Regions from separate parts of the Homo sapiens genome. Here region 1 is linked to region 2. Evidence: fine-mapped expression QTL. Tissue or cell type: whole blood. Region 2 holds a variant in brackets; the other region holds the start of a gene. All regions are shown on one strand. Distances are between the middles of the regions.

The links. PIP is the estimated chance that this variant, and not a neighbour inherited with it, causes the effect.
Region 1: CDH26 starts here. The variant in region 2 is fine-mapped to the expression of CDH26 in whole blood (TOPMed, PIP above 0.99).

Annotation. Positions count from the first base shown.
Region 1 is chr20:59,953,994-59,962,085 of GRCh38, forward strand. It overlaps CDH26 (cadherin 26), which reads left to right and starts at 4,430. Exons shown (of 18, transcript NM_177980.4): 1 at 4,430-4,802. The coding sequence starts at 4,734. RefSeq lists an enhancer at 471-972.
Region 2 is chr20:60,007,657-60,015,763 of GRCh38, forward strand. It overlaps CDH26 (cadherin 26), which reads left to right. Exons shown (of 18, transcript NM_177980.4): 18 at 4,871-6,873. The coding sequence ends at 5,074. Among named protein-coding and RNA genes, the nearest start is that of LINC02910, 44 kb to the right of the region's middle. The variant A/G (reference allele first, on the strand shown) is at 4,773.

The DNA of each region.
Region 1 (8,092 bases), 54 kb before region 2:
AGAGAGAGAGAGAGAGAGAGAGAGAGAGAGAGAGAGAGAGAGAGAGAAAGAGACAGAGTTTCACTCTTGTTGCCCAGGATGGAGTGCGATGGCTTGATTTCGGCTCACTGCAACCTCCACCTCAGCGATTCTCCTGCCTCAGCCTCCCAAGTAGCTGGCCATGTGTCACCACACCTGGCTAATTTTTTTGTATTTTTAGTAGAGACAGGGGTTCACCATGTTGGCCAGGCTGGTCTCAAACTCCTGACCTCAGGTGATCCACCTGCCTCAGCCTCCCAAAGTGCTGGGATTATAGACATGAGCCACTGCGCCCAGCCCTGTTTTATATTATGTTAATAGCTGCTATGTCTATGGCAGAGTTGAACCTACTTCACCACTACTGGAAGCAGAACTCTTCCCTGATTATTTTAAAAACCCTTCTCAAGAGTGTTCTGAGAAATTAAACTTTTCTTGTGACTATGAAGAAACGGGAATTGAATTCAGAAGTATTGGCTGGAAAATTATTTTTGTGTTAGTGAATATAGAAAGGTCTTGACTCAGGGGACATATAAGCATGAGCCATTTTATTCTTCCTTAATCTGAGCCTTCAACCAAACCATTTCAATCCCTCAGTTACAACTGGGGCTCATCATTACCCAGTCACGTCAGTCAGTAAAACCAGCCCAGCTTAAAACTTCGATGTCAGCCTTGATGGAAATCTAATCTCTTCCATCCACCCTGGGTGGGCTGGACTCCCAGGTGGGTGTGTGGGCAGGGGAGGCTTGGGCAGCCCCTCCTCACCTTCCAACCCAGCACTGAGATCCTAAGGCATGGTGGTGCTTTGCTGTTGGGACACCTCTGCTCCCTCCCTCTTCCAGGCTCTGCCTCCCCTAGCGTTGGTGACAGAAAGAGAGACTAAGGGAAAGCCTAAGGCCTGTCCTCTGTAACAGGCCACTCTCCCAGCCTTTCACTGCGGCTGGCTCACCTCTGCAGAGGAGGCATCGAATGCCAGCCTTCTCACCTCCCCAGCCAGGAAAGAAGGCTTGAGCCTAGCGCTTTACTTCTCTGGTGTTTACTTGATCCATATGGAAAATGCCAAAGGTAGGCAGAGTCAGGTGCATTTGTCATCTTCCCTCAGTCCCACTGTCCACCTAAGTTCCCCTCCTTTCAGCTGGGCATGAGGCCTGGCCAGCCAGACCACTGTCCACGCAGAAATCCAAGCCGGGTGGGGATGCCTCATGATGCAATCATCATTACTAAAAAAAGAACAGTGAGAACTGGAGGTGGCTGGGGGCACTCCTCAAAAACATGAGAAGGTTGACCCTGGGTAGGTAATTGTAGCTCATACCTCCCTTGCAATCAAGTAACTTTTATCTCATGAGCAATCTCATTTCTTCACTTGTCAGCTTACAGGGAGCTGGGAGCTGCCACCATGTGGCTATAAAGTATTACTGTACTTCCAAGGACACAGAAAGGAGCGCTAGACTATTGTCACTATGATCACATGCTCAGAATAGAAAGGGAGTGGGGACATCTTCAAGCTCAGGCTCACCCAAGATGTGCAGCAGGTGATGCCCAGAATCACCAGCTGAGTTCCAGGCCCCGTGGCCTACCCAAGTAGGGTTGCCGTGTGGGGAACTGGCATTCTGCTTAGTTATTTTAAACGCTTGAGAATGTTGAAAACTTGTTTGTTTCTAATATATTAAAATACCAGTTCCTATGGTGTTTTTTGTTTTGTTTTGTTTTGAGATGGAGTTTCACTCTTGTTGCCTAAGGCTGGAGTGCAATGATGTGATCTCAGCTCACTGCAACCTCCGCCTCCCGGGTTCAAGGGATTCCCCTGCCTCAGCCTCCGGAGTAGTTGGGATTACAGGTGTGTGCCACCATGCCCGGCTAATTTTAAAATACCAATTTCTTTTAAACTTAAAACGAATGTGAAAGTGGAATCCTTCACTGTTGTCCCCCAGCTCCGCCCAGACTAGAACATTGTGAGGCTAATGCCTTTCTAGCAACAATATTTTAGTCCCCAGCGCTATTCTAGCAGCAGGGAGTGCTCAACTGACGTGGTTTTTTCACATATATTTAACATGGTTTAGCTCACCTGACTTATATATTCTAAATTAGTGATTCTAACTTAATCAGTTTTTTAAAAATAGGCTATCATTATAGAAATATCCACTTTGAAAATAGGCACAAGGTATTCAGTTTCTCTTTATGCACAGGAAATATCTATAGACTTTAAAGTTGTATTTATTATTCTTTTCAATAATAAGCTATTAATTTCAATAAAAATAAACTATTCAAATTAAAATATTCAGCAGCATCTCAGAGCTATGAATGTTCAGTTAAGCAAAGAAAGTTTTTTTTTTTTAATTGGGAGATTTTTATTTTATATTTTATTTTTGATGAGTTCTTTTTTATTTTTATTTTTTAATTTTATTTTTCCATAAGTTATTGGGGTACAGGTGGCATATTGGTTACATGAGTAAGTTTTTCAGTGGAGATTTGTGAGATCCTGGTGCACCCATCACCCAAGCAGTATACACTGCACCATATTTGTTGTCTTTTATCCCTCACCCTCTTCCCACTCTTCCCCCCAATTCCCCAAAGTCCATTGTATGATTCTTATGCCTTTGTGTCCTCATAGCTTAGCTCCCACAAATCAGTGAGAATATACAATGTTTGATTTTCCATTCCTGAGTTACTTCATTTAGAATAATAGTCTCCAATCTCATCCAGGTCACTGCAAATGCTGTTAATTCATTCCTTTTTATGGCTGAGTAGTATTCCATCATATATATCTGTATATACACATATATATACATATATATGTGTATATATATGTGTATGTATATATATACATATATGTGTGTATATATGTGTATGTATATATATACATATATGTGTGTATATATGTATGTATATATGTGTATATATGTACATACACATATATACACATATATGTGTATATATACATATATGCGTGTATATATGTACATACACATATATACACACATATATGTGTATATATGTACATACACATATATACACGCATATATGTGTATATATACATATAGATACGCATATACACATTTTCTTTATCCACTAGTTGATTGATGGGCATTTGGGTTGGTTCCACGATTTTGCAATTGTGAATTTTGCTGCTATAAACGTGCATGTGCAAGTATCTTTTTCGAATAATGACTTCTTTTCCTCTGGGAAGATACCCAGTAGTGGGATTGCTGGATCAAATGGTAGTTCTACTTTTGTTCTTTAAGGAATCTCCACACTGTTTTCCATAGCAGCTGTACTATGTTATATTCCCCCCAGCAGTGTAGAAGTGTTCCCTGATTGTCACATCCACACCAACGTCTACTGTTTTTTGATTTTTTGATTATGGTCATTCTTGCAGGAGTAAGGTGGTATCGCACTGCGGTTTTGATTTGCGTTTTGCTGATCATTGGTGATGTTGAGCATTTTTTCATATGCTTGTTGACCATTTGTATATCTTCTTTTGAGAATTGTCTATTCATGTCCTTATCCCACTTTTTGATGGGATTGTTTTTTTCTTACTGATTTGTTGGAGTTCATTGTGGATTCTGGATATTAATCCTTTGTCAGATGTATAGATTGTGAAGATTTTCTCCCACTCTGTGGGTTGTCTGTTTACTCTGCTGACTGTTCCTTTTGCAGTGCAAAAGCTCTTTAGTTTAATTAGGTCCCAGCTATTTATCTTTGATTTTATTGCATTTGCTTTTTGGTTCTTGGTCATGAAATCCTTGCCTAAGCCAATATCTAGAACAAGCAAAGAAAGTTTACCTTTTATTTTATCTGTTTACTACTTTAAACAAGGTAATGTGATAAAAAGGTCATGTTAAGGTAATCAGGGTTAATGTATCACAGATTGTGTTTTAAAACTTGCTTACTGCAACCTTAAGTATTGGTATAATATAATCTCAAATTGTCTCTTTCAGAATTCTCATGCAAAGACTCCCGGGTTGCCACAGAGATCCCTGTCCATAGGGAGGCTCTTTCCCATCTCTCCTCCCTCCCACTTTAATTCCAAACTCAAAAAGGCAGATTAATCTAAGCTTAAAAAAGGTTTTAGTAGAAATAATTTGAAAACCCCAGAGCCCTGGGATATTGTTGGAATAACGATTTTTAGTGCTTTGGAAAGTAAAAGTTGATTTTTCTTTTCTTTCATTCTTCCCCATCCCTTCCCCCTTAATAAAGTTATCATTCTTGTCATTTTCTAGTTTTTTTTGTTTGGTTCAAGAGGATAAGATTATAGAAAATAGTCACTAACATATCCTGCTATAGAAAGAGATGATTGGACCTTCTATTTGGAAACCAGAACAAACAAGGAAACAAAGAAACAAATAATTCTGCTTTCCGATAGGTGCTGGTTTTACTTCCGCTGGCTGAGCTGTTGTTCCTGAGGTCAGACCCCAGCCAGTCTTTTGTGTACGTGCAGGACCATGGTGGCTTTAGTTTCTACCCCACCCTTCCTAGGAACTCTACTTGTGGCAAACGTATGTTCAAGCTTACAAGTCAGCCCACCCCACTCTGATAAATGCAAGAAAAGCTGAAAAGGGAGGAGCAAGATGGGATGAAAGCATCTGGGCCAAAGTGACCTGAAAACCTTTAGAGAAGAAGCTGCTGGCTGAGAAGGAGGTGTGTGGCTCCGGTGAGACCACCAGCTTGGAGGACTGGTCATCAGCTGCACGTTCTGGGTCTGTCTTGGGTATTCCCATATGGCCATGAGATCCGGGAGGCACCCCTCGCTGCTGCTGCTTCTAGTGCTGCTGCTGTGGCTGCTGCAGGTAAGCTGAGCCTGCAGCCTAGTGCTCAGGTGCAGGGAACTGAAAGCAAAGCACAAGCTGGCCCTGCCCCTTCTAGGCTAAGGGAGGGGAGAGGGACTGAGTGTGACCTGCTGGGACCCAGGGCTGGCTGTCTTGAGAATGGCTTAGGTAGCAGGGGCTCTGGATTTATATAAAGGGAAGTTAAGGGTCCCAGTCTGTTTGGGGCAACAGTGGGAGCAGGCTAAGGGACCTGTTTAAAACTAATTTATATAGTTCACACTATTTTTAGTGAGATTACATCAACACACACGTGTTTTCTTTCTTTGTTTCTTTCTCCTTTTGTTGAGACAGGGTCTGGCTTCATCATCCAGGCTGGAGTGCAGTGGCATGATCAAGGCTCACTGCAGCTTTAACCTCCCAGGCTCAGGTGATCCTTCCACCTCAGCCTCAAGAGTAGCTGGGACTACAGTAACTTACCACCACGCTGGCTAATTTCTGTATTTTTTATAGAGATGGATTTTCACCATGTTGCCCAGGCTGGTCTCGAACTCCTAAGCTCAAGTGATTTATTCGCCTTGCCCTTCCGAAGTGTTGGGTTTACAGGCATGAGCCACCTCACCCAGCCAACACACACAATTTTTTTTTTTTTTTGAGACAGGGTCTCGTCATCCAGGCTACAGTGCGTGGTGACATCTCAGTGCACCGCAACCTCCTCCTACTGGGTTCAAGCAACCTCCTGGCTCAGCCTCCCGAGTACTGGGACTACAGGTGCACGCCACCATGCCCGGCTAGTTTTTGTATTTTTATTAGAGACAGGGTTTCACCATGTTGGCCAGGCTGGTCTCAAACTCCTGACCTCAAGTGATCTGCCTGCCTCAGCCTCCCAAAGTGTTAGGATGACAGGCTTGAGACACTGCGCCCTGCCAAGTTTTATAATGATACTTCTGTTCACACTTTACATAAGATTGAGGAAATCTCAGTTGTCTGGATCCAAGGCAATTTGAGCAAACCCATGGGGATGGAATGGCTAAATCCATTGCCCCCAACTGCCACTGTTTAAATGGGAATACAAACTAGTGGAGTCAGGATTCGAAACACATGGGCTTGCTCTGTTTGTACTTAGAGTGGACAGAGGTAATGTTGCATGCGCTTGTTGGTTATGATCTGCTTCGTTGGCTTTCTGTAGGTAGGGAGAGGGAATCATTTCTTCCTTTGAATACCAGCTGAGGGTGGGAAGCAGCCCAGTGGCTGGTAACTGTGAGCTCTGGACTGGGCTGCTTGGCGTCCTGACCTAGGCTCCTTCACAGCCCGCTGGGGACCTAGGCCAGCTTAACTTTGTTCCTTACCTTGGATCAAGTTGAACTTACCTAGGGAGCTTCAAGGGATCTCAGTGCCTGGGTTTTGCCCCCAAAGGTTCAGGTTGAGCTGACCTGGGAGTGCACTGGGTGTCAGTGCACTGGTTTTAACATAACCTTGTTAAGCCTATTTTTCTTCACCTGAAAATGGAGCTAGTAACTGAATTTATCTGAGCCAGTGGTTGTACCAGTGAATGAGGAAATGCGTAAAAGCCCTTGGTACTGCGAAAGTTGTCAGAATCAGAATGGAGTTCCTTATGTTAAAACACACACACACACACACACACACACAGGCACAAAGCCTGATATATAGACACAAAGAAGGTTATGAAAAGGGGGTTCTCACATTTGTAGGCTTGATAACTAAAACTATCACAAAAGCTCTGCAAAAATAACAACTTTGCACAAAGGCCGTTAAAACCTTACACAAAAAATACTTTTTCGAAGAAATCTTCCCAGCAACTTTTTGTGCAAACTCAGACCAGTGTCACCCTTCTTATTGATCTTTGTAGCCAAAGATAATTATTTCAAAACAATGATATAATCCTTCTCATTTTTTCCTTTGAAAACCTTTATCTCCCTTTACCTCCCTGACTCTGCACATCGTTTACCATGGCACACATATTCCCATGGATATGTCCTTGCCCAGACAAACGTCATCTTCTCTTAGAGAGCCTCTGTCTACTATTAGGTTCACAGTTCAGTAACGACCCAGCCGTTTTTCTAATCACAGTGAAAATGGTTGGCAATATTCATTCAGAGCTCATGCTAAAACTATTTACTGGATACCTGCTTTGGGCCAGGCACTGGGAATACACCAATAAACATAATAGGGGGAAAACCCTGTCTGAAAGTGGATAACTTGTTTGGTACCAGTTGCTTGAGGTTTGGAGAATTTTCTTGGTCACATTTTGCCATATCAAGAGTTACGAGTTTCCTTAGTCAGACAGCACATTAATTTGATCTCCAATACTTCACAGAAGTCCTTTTTAGTAGCCCATGTTTGCATGGATTTGAATATAGTCCAGATCAAATCCTGTCCCCATCCTTCCCTCACTCCTGCTCCTACCCACAATGAGTCTGATCAGGAAACAGACCTGAATTCTCTTCCCTCTGGCGTATTAGTGCAGTGCCAAAGCAAATTAATTGACTTCTGAGGGTGGTTGGGTGGGGGTGGGCAGTGGGAATGGGTCTGTGGATTGTACTTCAGTGATTGATGACAGCAGCTTTATGTAGATTCCAGGGAATCAAGACAGATGAAGAGAACATGATTCAATAGATGTAAGAAGTTTTTAGCAATCAGAATGCTGGACCTTTAACTCTTAAAGAGCTTTACACCTGGCAGGTGCTCAATAATTGTCAAATTGGCTATGAGTAACATTCCGTTCCATTCCTTTACATCCCCGCCCCCTGAATTGGCTTATTGCCATCTGTGACATCTATGACAGATACCTACTTCCCCCTGTTCAGATCTCCATATTTACAAGCTGATACCATTTCTGCTGGAGAGCTATTGTGTCCACAATAGTTTTCCTCTGAAATCCCCACACCCTTTCTTTGTCATTTGGCCATGAAGCCAAATCACCAAGTCAGGATTCTGTTCTGCAGGTTTATGTCTTTGTTCCAGGTTCAGTGACAAGTAATGACAAGCCAAGGAAGAGGAGTTTTCTCCCCTTTTGTCATTTCCAGGCCTCTGAGCTCATATGTCCTCACCTTGGGGCTGTGGCAGGCTTCAAAGACCAGAGAAGAGGGAAGTTTTAAGAGAATGAAACTGTACAATGAGAAAAGCCACTTATGATTTTTTGTTGTTGGTGGTGGTGGCGTTGTTACCAATCTGGGAAATTCTGAATTGAGTTACATTTTAATAAATTGTTAGCATTTATGCTCTGACTGAATTACTCTTTCAGCCCTTCATTTAAGACCAACAGAGTGATGGGTTGCAGAAGGTGGGGATAG
Region 2 (8,107 bases):
GGTGTGAGTCTCTTGCACCAGTGAGCAATGAGGGCATCCAGGGTTCACTTTCGTCTCATCTGCTGGTTTCTGCTGGTTTTTTTTTTTTAACTTCATCCCATCTGGACCAGATCCTGTTTTGGTCAGCAGGGTTGTGACCAGAAAACAAGACCTGCTGGCCTCCTACCTCAGAATGAAGGGTCTTTTCCTGCAAAATTGTGAAAGATGTAGTTTGACTGCGCTGAAGGGGTCTATTATGTGAGATTCTGATTTTGGGTACATCCTGAAAGGTCCATCAACACAGCCACTGCGTACTCCTGGGAAGATTAGAAAGCAGCTTGGGAGCTGGGCAAACCCATGGGCAGGTTTACATGGATAGGGCAGAGCCAGTCCACATGCTCGTGTCATGGAGGCTCTGCATGCCCCCTGCTTGGGGAAGGAGGTACCAAGAAGCTGCCCAGGCCATTCTGACTCTAAGCAGCTCCTCCTGTTGCAGGGCAGTGGGAACTCAGGCCTATGGAATGATAAGCACAAAGGAAGACATAAATGTAGACAGTCTCTGTCAGGCCAGACTTATTTTTTTGGCAAACACGTGTATAATACTCACTTTGTTGTAGACTCTGTTCTGAGGACTTGAAAGATGTTAACTCTTAGTCTGCACATCAGCCTATTGGGGGAGGTGCTGTCATATGCCTTTTTATAACATGTGGAAACCCAGGAACAAAGAAGTTGGGTAATGTGTCCAAGGTCACAGCCACAGAAAGCAGTAGATTTGGGGCTCAAATACAGGCAACTGGGCTCCAGGGTCTAGGCACTTAGGGGGCTCATTAAAAAGCAGCAATCCCCAGTACCAACTCTGTGGACCCTGCTGTAGTGGGTCTGGGGTGCGCATCTGAGCCTCTGACTTGAGGTCCTGGGATCCTGTTTTGTGAAACCCATTGGTGAGCCTGGACGTCTCCTGCTGTGGTTGTCAGAGTGGATGACAGACAGGGCTGTGAACACTGTGGCCTGAGGAAGTGAGCCCAGACTGTGTCTGGATGTAGAGTCACTGTCTGGGGTTTCCCCAATGTTGCTTCCTCTGGTTCCTGTCACAGTCCCCAGGTGGGAGCTCCAGCTCTGTGCCCCAGTGACAGCCCCAAAGGTGCTGTAGGCTTGGCCCCTTCTCACTCCCACTCCTTAGCCCTGCAGAATGGGTGCTGCCTGGCACCTGCTTCAAGACAACACAGACATCTTCTCCGGGCCTAGAAGCTTTGCCTAAAAGCAGGCAAGCCAGGCTCCTGCAGAAGGGGGCTGTGTACCCACAGACTCAGGGCTGCAGGGCCCTTCCCCAGGTCCTGACTGCTGGTGAGGAAGATGAAGGATGAGCTGCGGGGAAATTTCCATGTGTCTCTCCCGAGCCGACTGTAACCTCCCTGAGGGCCAGGCTGTGTCATTACTGGTGCATGACACAGGGGTCACTGAAGAAGCAATGAAAGAACCATTTTCACTATAACCCAATGTGGTAGATGAATCCAAAAATGGAGGCTCAGACAAGTTGCTCCAATGGTAAAGGCACGAGGGACAGAGCCAGAAATGGGGCACAGAGTGGCCGACTACAGACGGGCCCACCTGATCATTAAGCAGGGTCAGGGAAGTCTCCTCTCTGAGCCTTAATTTCTCATCTACAAAGGAGAGTTGGGGCAGCTCTGCTACACTCTCGGGTGAAGCTCTGTGCAGACCAGATCATGTCTCTACAGAAAACGTAGCATGTGGTGATCATCACGTAGTATCCAGCTTACCCATTTTCACATTTGCGCACACACACGTGAACGCATGCACATGCACACATACCGCTCATGCCAAGTGGACTGTGTGGACAGTATCGCAGGTCCTGCCTGGCTGAGCAGGAGAGGGACGTGTTCCAGCCGCGGGCCCCCCTCCTCCCTCTGCGGGGCAGGGAGGCAGCTTTATTCAATGGAAGCTCGAAGCTCTGCTTGGTGGTGTGAGAGGAGGGAACACCAGATTAGAGGGCCCTGTTCTTTCCTTGTGAGCCCTCTAACTTGGATGGTGGTGTATGATGAATTATTGATCTGATGAGGCCTCCAAAGTTGCTGAATCAGGGTGCAGACATCCACTGCTCTGCTGTCAGCCTGGGGGTTTTGAAGTTGAATCCACCCAGCACAGCCCCCACTGCAGATTCTGTTTTGCTCTGCACACACCAGGTCTGTCGCTAATTATCTATTCAGCTTCACTGCAAGGACGTGAACCGACTCCTAACACGTAGGCCAGAGCTTGTGTATCTGCTGGTTTTGCCGTAAAAACTTTCTTTCCTCCCCCTGCCCCCAGCTCCCCCATGCCATATGGTCAGACAGTGACCACAGTCCCTGAGTAAGCAGACCCAGTCAATGGGCCAGATGTGCAGGTGAGCATTCCCGCGCTTCTCGTGGGCACCAAGCCTGACATAGCAGTAGACTGGGGCGGGGAGACAGCATTTCCCACTAAACAAGGGCCCAGGCAGGGCTCCTGAGAACCAGAGGAAGCTGGAGACAGCTTGTTGCAGTCACTGGGTGGGGCGGGGCGGGGGGCATAGTTAAGAGCTTGGAAGCCCAGGGGTCCCATCAGAATGGGGACACGCATGGGGTCCCTGGGGCCCCAGAGCTGCCCTTTCCAGGCCCTCCCCACCTCCCACCTTGGGCTTGAGCCCCAGGATTCTGACTGTTTTCATGCCCTACATGAGCTCACCCTCTCAGAATTACTATCAGCAGTGACGGATTAGACAGGCTCCCACTAAACCCATTCCTGCCAAGGTCTGTAGAACTGGCGCTGGGTTCAGATAGCACCCTCTAGAGGTATTAGAAGGTAAATAGGCTAAAGTCCCTCTCCCCTCCCCTCCCCTCCACTCCCCTATTTATTGAATCACTCAGGCCAGAAAAGTCTTCACAGAGAGATGACTTGGGTCCTGAATGCTGAGCTGGAGTTTGCTGGGTTGGAGATTGGCAGAGGAGGGCTGTCTAGGATTCTAGGCAGACAGGAATGAGCAGATATGAAGCCTAGGAAATGTTTCTGGGGTTTGTGCAGAGGGTGGACCTAAGGCAGGAGAGGTTGGGGAGAGGAGGAGATGGTGAGAAGAGGGCTGTTTGGAGGGAGAAAGCCATGGCAACCCCAGAGCAGGGTGGCTTAATGCGCAGAGCAGGCACCTCTGGCTCACGTCACACATCAGGGTGGGTGTCGAGCCGGAGCCTGCCCAGGGTCCTCCCACTCTGTGGCTCTGCCACCACTCAGAACTGGAAATGGGGCTGGAGGACAGAGAAAGAACAGAGGCTCTTGGGGAGGCTTTCATGGCCAGGTACGTGTCCCTGACATCCCTATTTCATCAGTCACGTAGCCACATCTAGCAGAGAGGCAGGAAATGTGATCTTGCCGGGTGACCAGAAGAACAAGAAATGAGTTTAGTGAACTTGCCACTCTCGCCCCAATGAGTGGAGATAGGGACCTATCCTCAGGCATTGGCCATGGGGCTGGAGGAGAGGGGACAGAACTAGAAATACTGCCGAGCATTTGAGAGGATGGGGCAGGGGAGAGTTGGTGATGACTCTAGGTTTCAAGGTTGAGCAGCTGGGCTGTAGGGGATGTCCTGACTTAAGTCAGGCTAGAGTTTCATGAACTTTGGTCATTCTGTCACTACTGTCACGCTTGTGTTTAACCCACTCACTATGATGTATTTAATGCATTTCTGTAAATCAGCTCACATGTTAATTAGCTTTTGGCTTTACAATCAGCTAGTGTGAAATCATGGATTTGGCGTGCTTGTTATTGTGTTTTGAAATATACGATAAAATGGCCATTCACTCAAATAAATATGTGTTCTGATACCATCGAAATCATCTAATGATGCAGGGGTCAGTGAACTTCCTATAAAGGGCCAGATAGTAAATCCTGTAGGATTTGAAGGCCAGTTCCCACAGCTCAGCCCTGCCATTGTTCCGTGAAAGCAGCCACAGATGATACACAAATAAACGGTCTTGGCCGTGCTCCAGTAGAACTTAATTTACAACAACAGGTGGTGTGCTGGATTATCCCCTGGCTTGTAGCCGGCTAGCCCCTGTAACAGGGGGTGCGCACTGCACTTGGCGAGCATTGAGGGAGGGACGTGGGAGGAGGAGATGTAGGTTGTGGGCAAAACCACAGTGGTTTCCAGGATGTTGAGTCTGAGGTCTCTGTGGATGTCCTTGTGGAGCTGTCTGGTTGGAATTCTGGCTCTGGATGTGACTGTAGGGAGTGTCACAGAGAGAGATGGTGACGGGGACATCACCATTGGTTAGGGATGGATGAAGCCATGGCCTGAGCATGAATGGGGAGACTGGAGGGCAGTGGTTTGAGGAGCCACATGGGTGAGAAAGGGGTGGCAGGAAGTGGTGGCCGCCCTTTCTTGCAGGGAGGCTGTGAAGTATGAGCAGATTGAAGGATAGACCTGAGCACATTTGTGGGTCGGGAGAAAGGAGCCCACAGCAAGAGGCCAGGTAAAGATGAAGAGAGAGGGGACAGTTGTCCAAACGAGGGCCGGGGGGTCATGGAAGGGGAGGTGTCCAGGGCACAGGACAGGGAAGGGCGAGCCTCAAGGAATGAATCTGCAAGAGGGTGGGAGCAGGTGGGAGGTCCTCCTGGGGGCTCCTGTCATACTCCTGGGGCGGCCACCACTGTGTCACAGTTCCCTCTCAGACTGTAAGGTGGGATGTCTCCCCTCAGCATGGCTGCCACTTCTGGAACTGTACGAACTCCTGTGTCAGCTGAGGACACGGGGCCTGAGTGCTGTT[A/G]CTACTGCATTGATGTGTTCCTCGAATCAAACCTAGAGAAATGAGCTGGGTATGGAAGCACATGGCATTTACCTTCTCTTTCCCCCACTTTTCCCCAGAAACTCCATGTTGCCAATGTGCTGGAAGATGACCCCGGCTACCTACCTCACGTCTACAGCGAGGAAGGGGAGTGTGGAGGGGCCCCATCCCTCAGCTCTCTGGCCAGCTTGGAACAGGAGTTGCAACCTGATTTGCTGGACTCTTTGGGTTCAAAAGCGACTCCGTTTGAGGAAATATATTCAGAGTCAGGTGTTCCTTCCTAAAAAAAAAAGTCTATTTTGGAGAATTGAAATAATTCATGGAAGGGAATCACTATTCAGGGATTTTTCCCCTTTGCTCTTCTTTTCCCTCCTTAAAAGAAAAATTACCTTCTAGTCCTAGGATGAGGACACACTATTAGTTTGAATTAAATGCTTTGATATTCTCAGATCAGCCATCTTGAACCAAAGCAAAACCACAAGTTACACTTTCTTAAAATTTGATTTGTCATATTTTCTAGAGAAACTTGAATTTAATTGTGTTATTCTTAGCTTCCACTGGCAGCCTAGCTTTGAGGGTAAATGAAAATATAACCCATAGATTACCCAGCCACTTGGGAACAGCAGGTAATACTGAAGAAAAATAAAAATAGATTTTGAAAACGTTACTTACATTTCTATGATTATGATTCTGCTTCCATTTAAGGGAAAACTTAGGTAAATAGAGAAATTTTTTCTATAACATTTGTAGTCAGTATTTGAAGTGATTTTTTAAAAAATAAGTATTGGTCCCTGTTCACTTTTTGATTAGATAAATAGATAAAATATGTTATCTTGAGAAAAATGATTATGCTGAAAGCTTTATAAACAGTATACTCTTTAAAAAATGAAGAGCTGACATAATTTAACTTGTATGTATTATGTAAGTAAAAGAGTTAGGAGCCTTTGAATGAGTAAGTTCTGATTAGATTTTATCTTTAAACAAAACCACAAAATTTAATTGGTTTTTACTTGTCCACTTACTGCTAGTGTCAGTTTCAGGGGAAGAAATGGTTTCTTTTAAAAATCTTAATAGGGGACATATGCCCTAAAAATAGTCAGTTTTCTAGTCTGAGTAATAGATAAGAGACTGACTAAGCAAAGTTTAAAATGCTATTTGGACACTTTAATGCACATATTGGATATCTAAAAGTCTACAGCCATATAAAAATTTTATATAATTAATGAGCAAATGCCGTCTCTCATGCCCTAAAATAAATCAGTAGAAACATGTTTGCTGGTGAATCAGTGAAGCATTATGTTAAACAGTGAGTTACAGCTCAGAGTTAAAACTTTCTCCTTCTTTTTGAAGAAGCTGTGCAAATACTTCTTTTTAAGGAGATCTGGCCTTTTCCTACCTGGTTACCTCAGTCTTCCTCTGCTTTGGGAAGCTGAAAAAGAAGAAAAATCACATTTAAAGCACTGGAATGTCTGAATGGGACGCTTGAATGTGTAGAACAGCTGTACTGATCCTAGCATGACTCAGAGGACAGTCTAGGGCATTTTCTGGGTAATTCAGGATAAAAGTATTTTTTTTTTTAAGAAAAATACATGTTTTTGGACAACAAAACAAAGTAAACATTAGTTTATTCGATTGCCTCCTTATACTTGCCTCTTTCATTCTGTCCCCTGTAGATTTTTAAAAAATTATCTCATTTTAAAACTTTATTATTTCATTTTAAATAATTGACATATAATAATTGTACATATTTAGGGGGTACATAGTCATGTTTCAATACATTTACAGTGATCAGATCAGGGTGGTTAACGTAATCATTGGCTCAAACATTTTTCATTTCTTTGTATTGGTACGGAGCATTCAATATCCATCCCCCTTCTAGCTATCTAAAACTATGTATTATTGTTAACTATAGGCAACATATAATGGTATAGAGTGCTAGAACGTATTCCTCCTAGGAATAATTTGCTGTAATTTTGTATCCTTTAATAAATCTCTCCCTATCCCTCTTTCCCCCCACCCTTCCCAGCTGCTGTGTCCTCTGTTCTACCTTCTACTTCCGAGATAAACTTGGTTTTAGCTTCCACATATGTGTGAGGACATGTGATTTTCAACTTTCTGCAGCTGGCTTATTTCTCTTAACATAATGTCCTCCAGCTTCATCCATGTTGCCATAAATGACAGAATTTTTTTATTTTAGTGGCTGAATAATATTTCATTGTGTATATATACCATGCTTTCTTCATGCATTCATCTGCCTTTGGACAGCTAGGTTGATTCCACATCTTGGCTATTGTGAATAGTGGTGTAATAAACATGAGGTGCAGATGTCTCTTCAAAATACAGATTTCCTTTCCTCTGGACAAATGCCCAGTAGTAGGATTTTTGAATTATATTGTAGTTCTATTTGTAGAGTTTTTGAGGAACCTCCATACTCTTCTCCAAAGTGCCTGTACTAATTTACATTCCTACCAACAGCGTATGGGTTCCCTTTACTCAGCAACCTCACCAGCATTTGCTTTCTTTTCTTTATTTAATTTAATTAAAAATTTTGTTTGAGACAAAGTCTCACTTTATTGCCCAGGCTGGAGTGCAGTAGTGCAATCTCAGCTCACTGCAACCTCTCCACTTCCTGGGTTGAAGCAATTCTCCTGTCTCAGCCTCCCAAGTAGCTGGGACTTCAGGCATGAGCCACCACGCCCAGTTAATTTTTTGTATTTTTAGTAGAGATGGGGTTTTGCCATGTTGGCCAGGCTGGTCTCTATCTACTGACCTCAGGTGATCCGCCCACCTCAGCCTACCAAAGTGCTGGGATTAAAGGTGTGAGCCACTGCATCTGGCCCAGCATTGGCTATTTTTGACTCTTTGATAGTAGCTATCCTAACTGGGATGAGATAATACCTCATTGTGGGTTTGATGTGCCTTTTCCTGACCATTCATGATGTTAAGCAGTTTTTCATATATTTTTTGGCCATTTTATGTCTTTTGAGAAACATCTGTTCAGATCATTTACCCATTTTAAAATTGGATTCTTTTTATTTTGCTGTTGAGATATTTGAGCTCCTCGTGTATTCCAGATAATAACCCCTTATTGGATAAATAGTTTGCAGATATTTTCTCCCATTTTGTACGTTAACTTTTCACTCTGTAGTTTCCTTTGCTGTGCAGAAAATTTTTCGTTTGATATAATCCTATTTGATTATTTTTGCTTTTGTTGTCTATGCTTTCGAGGTCTTACTCATAAGTTTTTTTACAAGACCAATTTCCTGAAGCATTTTCCCTAGATTTTCTTCCAATAGTCTTATAGTTTTGGGTCTCAC